Homo sapiens: one gene and its partners. The protein of the gene in region 4 purifies or fractionates together with the protein of the main gene of each other region. This does not show direct contact. Each region holds a gene or a part of one and is shown on either strand. Other genes may lie near its edges.

What was found.
Region 1: the proteins of PEG10 (region 4) and CEP290 purify together in Homo sapiens (affinity purification with mass spectrometry; 3 studies listed by BioGRID and IntAct, with this or other methods). This does not show direct contact.
Region 2: the proteins of PEG10 (region 4) and TGFBR1 purify together in Homo sapiens (affinity purification with western blotting; one study listed by BioGRID). This does not show direct contact.
Region 3: the proteins of PEG10 (region 4) and USP9X purify together in Homo sapiens (affinity purification with mass spectrometry; 3 studies listed by BioGRID and IntAct, with this or other methods). This does not show direct contact.

The regions. Positions count from the first base shown.
Region 1 is NC_000012.12:88,132,089-88,135,588, reverse strand, and holds part of CEP290 (centrosomal protein of 290 kDa), read left to right. Parts: intron 1-3,500. UniProt on the Homo sapiens protein: Involved in early and late steps in cilia formation. Its association with CCP110 is required for inhibition of primary cilia formation by CCP110.
Region 2 is NC_000009.12:99,146,613-99,150,112, forward strand, and holds part of TGFBR1 (TGF-beta receptor type-1 isoform 1 precursor), read left to right. Parts: intron 1-1,041; coding exon 1,042-1,172; intron 1,173-2,567; coding exon 2,568-2,693; 3' UTR 2,694-3,500. UniProt on the Homo sapiens protein: Transmembrane serine/threonine kinase forming with the TGF-beta type II serine/threonine kinase receptor, TGFBR2, the non-promiscuous receptor for the TGF-beta cytokines TGFB1, TGFB2 and TGFB3.
Region 3 is NC_000023.11:41,214,445-41,217,944, reverse strand, and holds part of USP9X (ubiquitin carboxyl-terminal hydrolase 9X), read right to left. Parts: intron 3,378-3,500; coding exon 3,236-3,377; intron 2,047-3,235; coding exon 1,293-2,046; intron 726-1,292; coding exon 602-725; intron 1-601.
Region 4 is NC_000007.14:94,666,370-94,670,195, reverse strand, and holds the end of PEG10 (retrotransposon-derived protein PEG10), read right to left. Parts: 3' UTR 501-3,826; downstream 1-500.

The DNA.
Region 1 (3,500 bases), on a different chromosome or scaffold from region 4:
AATGTGGTAGAGAAAGTATGGATCGATGCCACTTAAATGTTAGGAAGAAGCTCTTAGAGCATTATCTGTTTAGCTAACTGCAAAACATAGCAGACATGTGGATTTTTTAATAGTCATCAAGGATCTAACTTATAATATACACTGGTAGAATTGCTTAGGGGGATGTCTGTGGTTTTCTGGACTTTTGTTCTTCTATATAGACCTGTATCAGTTGACTTATCATTCATACCACACACCCTTAGCTAATCAGAACTACCTTGTCCATTTATATCTTAGACTATTGTCTTTTTTCATAGTCACACACAGAGAAAACTTGAATATATGGCCTGTGTTCCTTTTTGGCTGCTCAATTCCTTGAGATGAAATATGGGTATGGGTTGCTTTGGCAATTACTTCTTTGCCGTTAACCAGTCATTCAGTTTTATTGAGTCTTTACAGCATACCAGAGGCTGCTAGTTACTAGTGATATAGTGGGCAACTATGTTCTGGTTCTCAAGAATATTCATAGTCAATAATAAGCATAACATAGTGATAATATGATACTTAGGGAGATACATAAGGTCATATTCTGGCATACTCTGGAGAGAGATACCGTAATCAGCCTTGAGGTGCAGGATGTGATCTGTAAACTGAGACCTGAAGTATAGTTAGACTGGTAAGAGGAATGAGGATATATATGGTGGTTAATAAAAGAACATTCTGGGTAGAAGATATAGCATTTGCTAAGACCTAGAGGTAAGAGATGTTATGGAGTATTTAGGAAACTACAGTTATTCATTTTGACTGAAATATAAGTGAAAATAGCTTTCATAGAGTCCTTACTATGTGCCAGGCACTTCATATGCATTAATTCATTATTGCTTATTTGATACTTGTCATATGAGATAGTTGTCATTTCTGCCATGATACAGATGAAGAAATGGAGACACAGAAAGAGTAATTGCCCATGGTTGCACAGCTTATAAATGGTAAAGGTAGGATTTGAAAACAGTCTTACTCAAGAGTCTGTGCTATCTTGCCTTCCCAGTTTTATTTTTTATGATCCTCTGGAGAGATAAGCAAGGGCCAGTTCCTAATGAATTTGGTTCTTTTCCTGAAAGGAGCCAGTGAAGAGTTTTGAGCACAGGATATCATGATCAGATCTATACTTTAAAAGTTTACTGTACTTTGTAGAGAGTGGATTGAAAAGGGCCAAGACTAGTAAGGAAACATTTGTGTTAATTCAGGGAAGTGCTAATGATGGCATTTGCCTGAGAAAGACAAGTGTGAGAGAAGTAGATGTAATTGGATGTGGTGAATGTAATTGGTTGTTGGAGGAGAGGGAGGATGGAGAGTCTGCCTAATTTTGTGGGTTGGGCCACTAAATAGGTAGATAGTGCCATTCATTAAGGAGGAACACAAGAGGAATTTGGAAAGCTTGAGATTATTTCAGTTTTGTAGATGTTGAGTTTGAGGTTCTTCTGGGCATATTCAAAAAGGGTATCTGTGGATATGGAATTCACAAGAGACCCTGTACAGATGATGAGGATTTATGAATCATCAATGTAGACATTATTGAAGCCAGAGAAGTGATTGTAAGGCACGTCTCTGAGAAATGTCTAATAAAGCAATGAAATAGGAAGAGTGCTTCAAGGAAAAGCTCAAGAAAGGAGAAACAGAGTGTGATGTTTGAGAAGACAAGGGAAAAAAACATTAATAGCATTAAATGCTTTAGCATTAAGTTCTTGGCTTCTCTTCTTGTAAAAATTTCCCAATTCAGAACACAGTGGGATTATTAACTTTCAATTGATAATAATAATGATAGGCAAACTTCTAAAATTTGTATTGTAGTTTGCATTTTATTATAAACTTTCTTTAAATTTTTATTTTGAAAAATGTCATATCTTCATAAAGATTGTAAGAAACACACTGTTGGTGTTAATGTAAATTAGTTCAACCATTGTGGGAGACAGTGTGGCAATTCCTCGAAGATCTAGAAGCAGAAATACCACTTGACCCAGCAATCCCATTACTGGGTATATACCCAAAAGAATATAAATCATTTTCTTATAAAGATACTTGCACACATATGTTCATTGCAGCACTATTCACAATAGCAAAGACATGGAATCAACCCAAATGCTCATCAATGATAGACTGGATAATGAAAATGTGGAACATATACATCATAGAATACTATGCAGCCATCAAAAGAGAATGAGAGGTCAAGCGTGGTGACTCATGCCTACAGTCCCAGCACTTTGGGAGGCCGAGGCAGGCAGATCACTTGAGGTCAGGAGTTCAAGACCAGCCTGGCCAGTATGGTGAAACCCCATCTCTACAAAAACAAAACAAAACAAACAAAAATTAACTGGTCATGGTACTGTATGCCTGCAGTCCCAGCTACTTGGGAGGCTGAGGCAGGAGAATGACTTGAACCCAGAAGGCAGAGGTTGCAGTGAGCTGAGATCGCACCACTGGACTCTAGCCTTAGCAACAAAACTAGAGTTTGTCTCAAAAAAAAAAAAAAAAAAAAACCGGAACAAGATCATGTCCTTTGCAGGGACATGGGATGGAGGTGGAAGCCATTATCCTCAGCAAACTCACACAGGAACAGAAAACCAAACACTGCATGTTCTCACTTATAAGTGGGAGCTGAACAATGAGAACACATGGACACATGGTGGGGAACAACACACACTGGGACCCGTCAAGGGGTCGGGGTGGGAGAACATCAGGAAGAATAGCTAATGGATGCTGGGCTTAATATCTAGGTTATGGGTTGATCTGTGCAGCAAGCCACCATTGTACACATTTACCTAAGTAACAAACCTGCACATCTTACACATGTACCCCAGAACTTAAAAGTTGATGGGAAAAAGAAAAACAATAACCACCCACATACCCTTCATATAGATTCACCAGTTCTTAATGTTGTGCCAACTTTGCTTTATCTTTTTGTCAGTATTTTTACACACACATGTATTTCTCTGTCTCTTGTTTGTTCAATCACATTTTTTGCTGAGTCATTTAAGAGCTAATTGCAGATATGATACTTTGCACTTAAATATTTCAGCTTGTCTGTTTGAAAAAGAAAGATGTTCTCCTACAATGAACACAATATAATTGTCATGCTCAGGAATTTTAATATTGATTCAACACCATTATCTAGTCCATAATGAGATTTCTTCTAATGGCCCAATAATATCCTTCAGTCTCCCCACCTCCAATATCCAAAGTTCTGTCAAGGATCACATACTACATTTGGTTCTTTATTATAGACTTTTTAAATATCGTTGTATACCATTGTGATTCTATCGTCTCCTTTAATAAAGAGGAGAACCAGAAAAATGAAAGGTCATAAGAGGAATGAGGTTTGGAGAATAGGTGAAAAAAGGCATCATAATGTTTATAATAATGTTTGCCTGTTCAGAGAAACAAGAATCACAGATAAAGTCACTTATATGTAGATAAGAGAATGCTGTATTACTTTTTGCTATTCTATTCACTGATCATTTTTC
Region 2 (3,500 bases), on a different chromosome or scaffold from region 4:
AATTGCTCTCCTCTCCCCCAGTAGTTTGTCATGAGCAGAAGTTGTTCAAGAATTGTCTTCTTTTTTTAATTGAATGAAATTATGTACAGTCCATTATCTGAAACAGGATGTCACCGAGTGCCAGAGAAAACAAAGGCGATGAAACCTTTGGGAGGGGACAGTGCCATGGTGTGCACATGCACAGCTCTAGCCTAGTGTATTCTCTTCCTGTTTCCATTTGAATCTGGAGACTCATCAGAACCCAACCCCTTGTTATATTGGAATATAGTTCTTTAGAATGGACAGCTGCTTGAGAGGCTCACCTAGGAAGCTGTTTCTAGCATGTACCTGGGTGTCAAACTTATTTTTTTTCTTTGAGATTGTGGTTATTTTCTCCAACTTGATAGTTACAGTTACATACACAGAATACAATTATGTTACCATTGTGTTGTATTCTAGAGTTAGTTTGTTTTAACTTCTAGCTTTTTAGATGGAGTACTTTTAATGTTTACTCAGGAAACAGTCTCTTAGGCTTGGGGACCTAGACTTGGCTGAGACCTAGTGCCTTAGGTTTTTGAAGCAGTGAGGGACAGAGTATTTCTCTGTATTGTAGTAAATAGGATATATTATTGACAGATGCAAGTAGAGAAAGGGACTTGGCACCTTAAACTTGCCTCATAAGATTCAAGTCTCACTGATAGGGTATATATATCCCTGTGCAAGTGAGAGCCTGTGCACTTACAGAATAGAATCTCATTTGCTGCACAATAGGGTTCTAGGGGAAAATGTCAATCTGGTCATCACAGCTCATAGTTTACTGTCATTTCAAATAGGCTTTATTGATCTCATGGCAATACTTAGTTTCAAGGTGTGGGTGGAATATCAACTCAGGGAAGTGGCTTGTGGATACAGATGTGGATGAGATAGAGAAAGCTGTAATCTCTGTTCCACATACCTACTTTAGTAATGAAACACTGTAATAGGTCTCTCAGGTGATCTTTTAATGCCTTGGCATTAGCTGAATAAATTCATCAAAATTTAATTTTTTTTAAACTGATACAGGAATTCATGAAGATTACCAACTGCCTTATTATGATCTTGTACCTTCTGACCCATCAGTTGAAGAAATGAGAAAAGTTGTTTGTGAACAGAAGTTAAGGCCAAATATCCCAAACAGATGGCAGAGCTGTGAAGTGAGTATTTCTTTTTGATATTAGGCAATTTTCTAAACTGCTTCTGCTTAGTAAGCAAAAGTTTGCTACTTTTCTTTAAGGAAAACTTTTCTTTAAGAATTTTCTTTTTCATAGCAGTCAAACCAATGTTTAAAAACAGAATAATTTGGTTTTCATATTCAATTGTAAGCACATTGAAAGGGCCATGGAACATTTGCAGTGGCCTTTAGTGTATCAGAACATAGTTTAGATCTGCCGGGCGAACTAAGGCACATATTTTTAAATGAATGCCTCCCTTCAGCCGGGGCAACCCAGAACACTAGACAGTTACCGGACATGAATGAGGAGCCCTGTATTCTAGACCAGCCTGGCTACCATTTCAAGGGTCTGACTCTGAACAAATCCCTTTAGTTCTCTGGACTTTAATATCCCTTTGCAAGGTGAGGAACTCAGATAAGGTGATTACAAAGGTGTTTCAAATGATTTTCCGTTTTATTCATCTGATTGCCCAGATAACCGTTAACCAGGAATTTAGGGAAAATGCTTTTTTCCAGCAGTATCTGAGCTGCTCAACTTCAGCTCTAACAAAAAGTTTTAGAAACGTTTTTGTAATTGTAAATTTAAAGATTCGTAAGATGAATTTTATTTAACCTCTCCTTAATTGCTAGCTGTTACTATTACAATATTGGTGAAGCAGAGCATATTCCTCCAGGTTTGAAGATTTGTAGCTTAAAAAGGCTATAAAAAGCTGTTCAGTTCAGTAGTTGATTTTACGTCTTAAACTATTGTAGGACTCAGCAGAACCTCTGATAAGCAAGAGAGCTTGCTACCTCCAACAAAATCACATCTCCAGGCCCAAATAAATAAAATGTATTTCAGCATGCTTAAGGAATTTGCATGTGACATAGTTTAATAAATGAGAGTGCTGCTAGATTTTGTCTTTTAGAAATTTGATCTACTTGGGAGGCTGAAGTGGGAGGATTGCTGGAGCCTGGGAGGTCAAGGCTGCAGTGAGCTGAGGGCATGCCATTGCATTCCACTTTGGGCGGCAGAGTGAGACCCTGTCTCAAAAAAAAAAAAAAGAAAGAAAAATTTGATGTGAATACTTCAAAGTACAAACTTAAAATTTCAGTGTGAGGTCAGATTTCTTCTTTGCTTTGCCCAGCTCTGGTTTAGGATTCGGCCTTTTCAGGTTTGCTAAATGAGTCACTCTTTGTCCACCTGCTTTCCAGCACTGGCACCAGTACCCTATTGATGGAAATTTATGTAATTTCTACTCATTTGCTATTACAAATAATGCTTAAACAATAACAAGTGTATATGTCATTTAAAAAGAAAATTTACACGTAAAAATTCTTATCCAGACCAATGGAAAATGGTGCATGCATTAATTTTTTTTTTTATATTTTCTTGTAGGCCTTGAGAGTAATGGCTAAAATTATGAGAGAATGTTGGTATGCCAATGGAGCAGCTAGGCTTACAGCATTGCGGATTAAGAAAACATTATCGCAACTCAGTCAACAGGAAGGCATCAAAATGTAATTCTACAGCTTTGCCTGAACTCTCCTTTTTTCTTCAGATCTGCTCCTGGGTTTTAATTTGGGAGGTCAATTGTTCTACCTCACTGAGAGGGAACAGAAGGATATTGCTTCCTTTTGCAGCAGTGTAATAAAGTCAATTAAAAACTTCCCAGGATTTCTTTGGACCCAGGAAACAGCCATGTGGGTCCTTTCTGTGCACTATGAACGCTTCTTTCCCAGGACAGAAAATGTGTAGTCTACCTTTATTTTTTATTAACAAAACTTGTTTTTTAAAAAGATGATTGCTGGTCTTAACTTTAGGTAACTCTGCTGTGCTGGAGATCATCTTTAAGGGCAAAGGAGTTGGATTGCTGAATTACAATGAAACATGTCTTATTACTAAAGAAAGTGATTTACTCCTGGTTAGTACATTCTCAGAGGATTCTGAACCACTAGAGTTTCCTTGATTCAGACTTTGAATGTACTGTTCTATAGTTTTTCAGGATCTTAAAACTAACACTTATAAAACTCTTATCTTGAGTCTAAAAATGACCTCATATAGTAGTGAGGAACATAATTCATGCAATTGTATTTTGTATACTATTATTGTTCTTTCACTTATTCAGAACATTACATGCCTTCAAAATGGGATTGTACTATACCAGTAAGTGCCACTTCTGTGTCTTTCTAATGGAAATGAGTAGAATTGCTGAAAGTCTCTATGTTAAAACCTATAGTGTTTGAATTCAAAAAGCTTATTTATCTGGGTAACCCAAACTTTTTCTGTTTTGTTTTTGGAAGGGTTTTTGTGGTATGTCATTTGGTATTC
Region 3 (3,500 bases), on a different chromosome or scaffold from region 4:
ATTTCATAAGTAGCTTACACTTTTCAGTCTCATCTTGTAATCTTTGGTTTTGTTTGAGACAGGGTCTTGCTCTGCTGCCCAGGCTGGAGTGCAGTGGCACAGTCATGGCTCACTGCAGCTTCAACCTCCCAGGCTCCAGCGATCCTCCCACCTCAGCCTTCCGAGTAGCTGGGATTACAGGTGTGCGCCACCATACTTGGGTAATTTTTAAAATCTTCTTTGAAGAGATGGGGGTCTCACTATGTTGCCTAGGCTGGTCCTGAACTCCCGAGCTCAAGCAATCCTCCCACCCTGGCTTCCCAAAGTGCTGGCATTACAGGTGTGAGTCACTGTCCCCCAGTCTCAGCTTGTAGTCTTTGGTGCAGGGATGTCAAAGATATGATACAAGGTAATAGAAGCAGAAGTCAGCTTCTGAATAACAAAAGGCCATGTTTAGACTAAGTAACTATTTTAATATGATTTCTCTATTGTGACCCAGAGTTTTTATTCTATATTCCAAACTTCAAACAAAATTCTCTTGGTTTAGAAAAACATAAAGCAATCTATTAAAGAAGCAAACCAAACATTAGTATAATAGGAATGAAAATCCAAAGCAATGTACCAATCACTGGCAGAGCCACGGACTACTTTCTTTGTGTGAAATCCTGTAGTAAAGAGGAACCTAGCAGCAAGTTGAATACTGATCATAGTGATTTCTTCTGCTTCAGGCAACAGGTGATCTTGCCCTATAAATAAAATGCAGATATAAAAACACATTTTTATTTTCCAACCCCATTTTCAAACAAGTCTGTGTTTCCATTAATTTTGAGAAGTCCTAAATTTGTTAAGAACCCTTCTCAGGCTACTTTAATTTAGACCCATTTATTTTTTTATTTTATTTTTTTGAGATGGAGACTCACTGTCACCCAGGCTGGAGTGCAGTGGCCATCAATTTGGGTCACTGCAACCTCCACCTCCCAGGTTCAAGCGATTCTCCTGCCTCAGCCTCCGGAGTAGCTGGGACTACAGGGAGTAGCTGGGACTACAGGTGCATGCCACCATGCCTGGCTAATTTTTATATTTTTAGTAGAGATGGGGTTTCACCATGTTGGTCAGGCTGGTATTGAACTCTTGACCTCAGGTGATCCACCTACCTCGGCCTCCCAAAGTGCTGGGATTACAGGCGTGAACCACCACACCCAGCAAATTAGACTCATTTAAAGTGAAAACATTAATTTTATGAACTTAAACATGTTGACGCCTACTATAAATTATTCTTTATTACTAAGAAGCTAAACTCTCTTGATACTCACCGGGAGGAGGGTTTAAGTAAACGCCATTACATGTAAGCAGTTTTTTCATAAACTGAAAATACTCCATACTGTACTGCATTCGGTTATGCATGAATTGTACGTTCTGTTTCCGTACACTTCTCTCAATGGCTGATGGCATAATAATCTGATGAGGTCTGGTGGTGATAGCAAGCTCTGATATATATCTTATCAACTCATCATCTTGGTCTATTGTGTCCATTCGTTCATAAAAAAGTATATAAGCATTCCACCACCTTTTCTGGCGCCTGTATGACATACGCTTCATCATGTGATCAAACACTTCTCCCATGTACTCTCCACCAAAACACTGGTTTTTCATTTCTTCGTCATCATCCATTTTACATTCTGTTACATCACCATCATCAAATTTATACCAGCGATTTCTCTCACCATCTCCACCATTCCTTTGGATGATGTAAGAATAATAATGCCCCCCACTCGCTTGACCACTGTGTACGAGCACACCCACAAGTCTGTATTTTGTGCTTCCTGCTGTCTCACTTTCAGACTGCTCACTCTGTTGTATCAACTGACTCTCTGGGTTTACATTATCCCCTTCCAGCTTTGCGACACCTGCAACTGTGTAAGGTTCCATGTCCAGCTCTCGAGGAAATTCAAAATAATCATTGAACTTGATTGCACATTCTCTTTCCCAGTCATAGTCAAATCGCTTTAGTTGTATAGCAAGAACAGGAGGTAATTTTTTAATCAGCAAGCGCTTTACGGTATCAACCTAAAATAAACAAGACAAAGTTACCAGATGTTCTATTAAAATCCACAGGAAAAAAAAAAAAACCCCAAGCAAACTTTTAAATGATATTAAGACTTATCTGAATTTTTAAGTATAAACAAATACATGACAATGAGCATAATCAAGATAATCCTATCAGCTGATTTAAATGCTGAAATTAATAATATGCAAATGGTAAATTGTTGACTGGTTTCTGTCATTGTTATCTAGCCATTATTACCTGTTTGATGTTTACTGTTGTTCCCACGAAGGTGGTTTCCTATGCACAAACCAAAGAACTACAATAACAATAAGAGTAGCTAATATTTGTTGGGTAATTCAGATGCCAGGTAATATATACTAAGTGCCGCACAAGTAAAAACATACCGAATCCTTACAACCTTCTCAAGTGTGTACTACTGAACCTTAAAAGATGAAAACTAGTAATCACAGAGAGGTCAAGTAACTTGCCTCAGGTCTCAGGAGCTGCAGGTGGCAGGCAGTATGGCTTTACAGCCCACAATCTCAATCTTTAAACTTCAGGACTTCTCTAAGTGGTGCATAAGGCCAAAACAACACAAGTGACTTGAGGGTGAAAGGGTTTGGGAGCTCCCAAAGATACACCTTATTCATTACTATAATGCGTGTGAATCATCTCTCTCAAAGAACTGCTAATAAGTTTCCAAAATAAATGGTTTTATAACATAGGTGATAAAAGAAATCTTATGGGCCACTTGACTAGTCTAAAAGAAATCTTATGTGGTTCAATAAAGTAATTAATGGTTTCAGCAAATGTTTTGGTCTTGACAAGTAATCCTGGACATGACAGGAGAAATGTTTTCCTCTATCAGCTCTGTATCTTTGAGGGGTTCAATGGCAATTTGTTTCTCGGTAGAGATGGAAAGTGTCTGTGTAACTTATATAAGAGAATGTGCTATCACGTTATGACTTTTAAAATTATTCACTCTTATTTACCTATTTTTATCTTATTTACCTAGCCCCTTTGGCACTACTTTTTTTCCTTCCTTGCCAAACCTTCTATTAGTTATCATATTGACTACTTCTCTGCTACCACTATACCAAAGTAGGAGAAAATAAAAATAGGGTGACTTGTGAGGATGAACCAAAAAAACCAATTTCTTCTAAATCCATTAAATGTAATCAAAATTAAACAAAACTGGACAGCCCGTACCTTTTTATTGCATTTTTCACAATGATATGCATTTGCACCTTCTAGTAAATCTCCTTTGACATACTGTTCCAAAGAATCAAGAAGATTTTGGTGATTTCTAATGTCTACGTTTAGGGTCGTAAAAGATTCTTCACATTCGTACCTAAAAACGATTTAAAAAAAGGATTTATCCCTTAGTTTTGTAAACATTTTAGTTATGGACTTAATGTAAACTACATTTGCCTTTTTTTTTTAAATTATACTTTAAGTTCTAGGGTACATGTCC
Region 4 (3,826 bases):
TTTCCTTTTAGTCACTATCTTCCCAATAAACAGTCATATTTATGTGACTGTCATGTCATATGAACCTAGCAGCCCTTTGAAACTCTTCTTCTATGTCCTAATACTTCATAATTTTATATTAATGAATCTCAAGTATTTAAAGTAAAACTGATGTTAAAGTTTGTGATAATAGCAACCAGAGTTGCTATTAATTGTGTATCTTTATTTTATATGTTAAACTTTTGCAGCTGGAATAACTGATTTCCTGGAGTATTCTGGCTATATAATTCATACTAGGTTGTAATCAATAATGTTCTTTATACCACCACCCCACTATCCCAAACTCAATTCCACCCCTACCCTACCCACCCTCCTACCTCCCTACCCTTCCAACAATCCCACCCTCCCCACAGCCCCACCCTACTCTAGCCTCTCCCACTCTCCCTACTCTCTCAGCCTTCCCCACCCTACCCCACCCCATTCCCTTGATGCTGGTAGATGCTGAAATGATCAGGACACAGTTTGCACTTAACCACTAAATCTTTATTGAATTTTTATTGTAACAGCAATGCAATATTAGCAAATAGAGAGAAATATAGAGTGAAGAGAATACAGCAATAAAGTTAGAAGGAGGGGTAGGGGCAATGGGGTTCAGTGGTAGGAGGAGGGCTACTGACAGGGGTAAAAGCAAGGGTTTTTATTTATCACTTTTATAACTTCCATGAAAATTTACCATCCATCATTGACAAGTTCATTCTAGCAGTAATTTATCAGAGGTCACTCATCCTCTATTAAATTATTAATCTAATCACCTTTGAACTTTCTCCCACTGGGGTTTTTATCCATGTCCAATTCGCTCTAAATAAGTTGGTCTCCCTGCAGTTCCCTCCGAGTTTATTTGAAATCTTTAAGGATAGCAATTATAGGGTAAAGGGTTACAAGTAAGTACGCATGTCCACTTATAGCGATATCTAATACATAATATTATTCTAACATTCTAAATAACCCCACCCACTTAAAATTACTTAATAGTCCCTCCCACCCTAAAATGCTTATGATTATATATCCCCTATTACTTAAACTTGATTACACAAAGAAATAAAAGCAATGCAATTTTCCACAGACCAATTCAATACCATTCTACAATCTAAAACAACAAAGAACTTTCAGTCTCATCAGATGTGCATTCTCTCTTTAGATGAAAATGTAGCATGGTTCCCGCAGGGCTCTCCATTTCTGCCCAGGTCTTTCCAGCAGGTTGTTCTCTGTTGTCAATCTTGGAACTGTCTGTATCTGATGTGAGATGTCTGTGGTGGATGACAACTGGATCAATTCAGAAGTCCAAGAGGTACCTACAAACTTAAACAGAATTCCAGACTGCACCATATAGATGTGGCCCTCTTATTTTGTGCACCTGCAAGTTCACTGTATTACTTCACGATTTGATCAGACTAATTCTCCTTTTTTCCACTAAGACAAATACCTCACTGTCCAAACTAAATTGACCCTTCATAAATGTATGTAAACTTTCTGTGTTTCAATATCCTAGCATGATAAATTTAGCTAGTTCTCTCTAGGCTTGCCTATCAATGGGAGCTCTTAGATCTTCTTCCTTCTTGATTTAATTAACAATGTAAATTTGGGCTAAAAGTCAATTAATTAATTTTGCCAGTTTGAAAAACTCGACTACTGATTTGCTTACTAATTCATCTATCTCCTTTATGTTTTTTATTTTGCTCCCTTTCTAACTTCTTTAGATATCAAATTCCATTGATTTTTTTCCTTTCTTATGAATAAAGCCATTTTTGTTGGAAAATGCCAAAAAAAATTTAAAGGATCCAATTAACATAAATTTGATTAACAACAAAATAAATCAATTGAGTGAAAGGAAACTTAACCAAACTTCAAAACTATAGAATAATAAATTTAGAATTACTTATCCTTAACATCTACATTTATAGATAGCATATATAGCAATAGAGCATAGTACACACTGCCAAAAAGTTAATCACAAGCTTTAGTAAACAGCCAAATGTGGATCAGGGACTTTCTGAGTTGTTAACCCACAGCAGCATATTTTCCCTAATCGTTCTTGTCGTTGGTGAACTTCTCCAGACTTTTGCTTGCAGTGGTGGCAAATGTCCGTGTGCACATGCCAGGGCTACAGACAACGGCCCATTTCTAGGCACCCTGCAGCTTGAAGATCAATTGACAACTGTAAATTTGACAAAAAAACAACTTGAATTCAAATGTATGGAGGATGAATTGATACTTGAGGTAAACAGAAGTGACTCTTCAAAATAGTTCAGAAGCACAAATGCACCATTTTAAAAGTAATTACTCTAAAACACATGAGTGATTGACAAGCTTTCTGATTCCATTGAAGGAAAAAAAAAGTTGTTTTGGATTAAATAGCCAATTAGGTTTCTCTTTTCAAATTTTATATCCTTTTATATGATTTTTAAAGGCCCAATTGATAGAATTGAAATTATATATGATGTTAAAATTGAAGATGAACAGGATGAATTATTATACAAATGCTCCAGTTCTGAGGAGCCTCTCATTCACAGCATTGTAAGAAGTTCACAGTAAAGGAATATTTTACACTATGTTACTTATCATTTTTACTTAGTTTAACAATAAGAACTGGATAGTGCTTTGTAATTCAATGGAAGTTTTTGAAAGCCTAGTCACCACTTCAAAACACACTAAAAATTATACTAAAAATTTTAAGTGTTTAAACATGCAAGAATAAGAGCAGATGATAATGAACATGTGAAAGATGATGCTGATGAAAAGTGAAACTTCACCGTTAGACTCCTCTTCATGTCAGGCAATTTGAGATATACACCATGTTGTTTTCTACTGCTCAAACTGTGCTTTGGCAATTAAAGCCTGCCTCTTACATCTCTGTGTGTGGCAGCAAAATGGAGTCTCAGCAACCAGGCAGGAAAATGACACAAATCCTGCAGCAGGGTCAATGGCAGTAGCAAAGAATTAAACAGAAAAAGAGAGGTTAGATAAAACAGTTCAAGGTAGTAGCAAGGGACCAGGCTAAAGGAAGTCAGGCAGTCCCAGGTTAGCACAAAGCTTCCAGGGGACATCAGAGGTGTCACTGGGCTGAAGACAACTCTTGTGTTGTCCGTTGCTTTGAGTCCTTTGAGTTGCTTTCTGAGGCTTTTCATCCATTGGCAGCTTCACATCAGCTCCATCCTCTAGAGGGACCTTTTTCATTACGTGGATTCTGATCCTTTTGAAGTGGTTACCATCAAGTAATGTGGAGCTCACTAAGGAAGTCCACATCCTCAAGACAGTGTCCACAGCCCTAATTCCTCTTCTTCAAAGATGTCCCCCTTCCAGGCATAGGAGTGTGAATCTGGGTGCTAAATCATTTCTCCTCTCTCCACACATCCTAATGCTACAGTCTAATGAGGGGACTGAAGATGAAATGCCCAGATGCATATGGAGGCAGACACATGGATAGATTCTTCCAAAACGTCAGCTGGTGCTTTTCCAGCCAATTAAGAACACTCATGAAAATTCTTTCTGAAGTACCAGGACAAATCTCTTAAGAGTTGGGTATGGGATTTTGGAGTCCTTTTGATGTGCTACTCTTTAGCCCTCAAAGGTGATTGAGAGGTGGTCACATTTCATGAACATCTAACAACGCTGGAGCCACCAGTAATCTCTGGTTACCAGGTTTAATGCTTTGTGGAAGCCATCATGGCATGATGATGGTAAGGTGTTGTGTCAAAGCCGGAGTCATTGGGTACATGTGATTTGCACCATGATGTGAAGACATAGTCTTAACATGCAAGAGTCCATCTGAGAGAGCACTTTCTTTTCA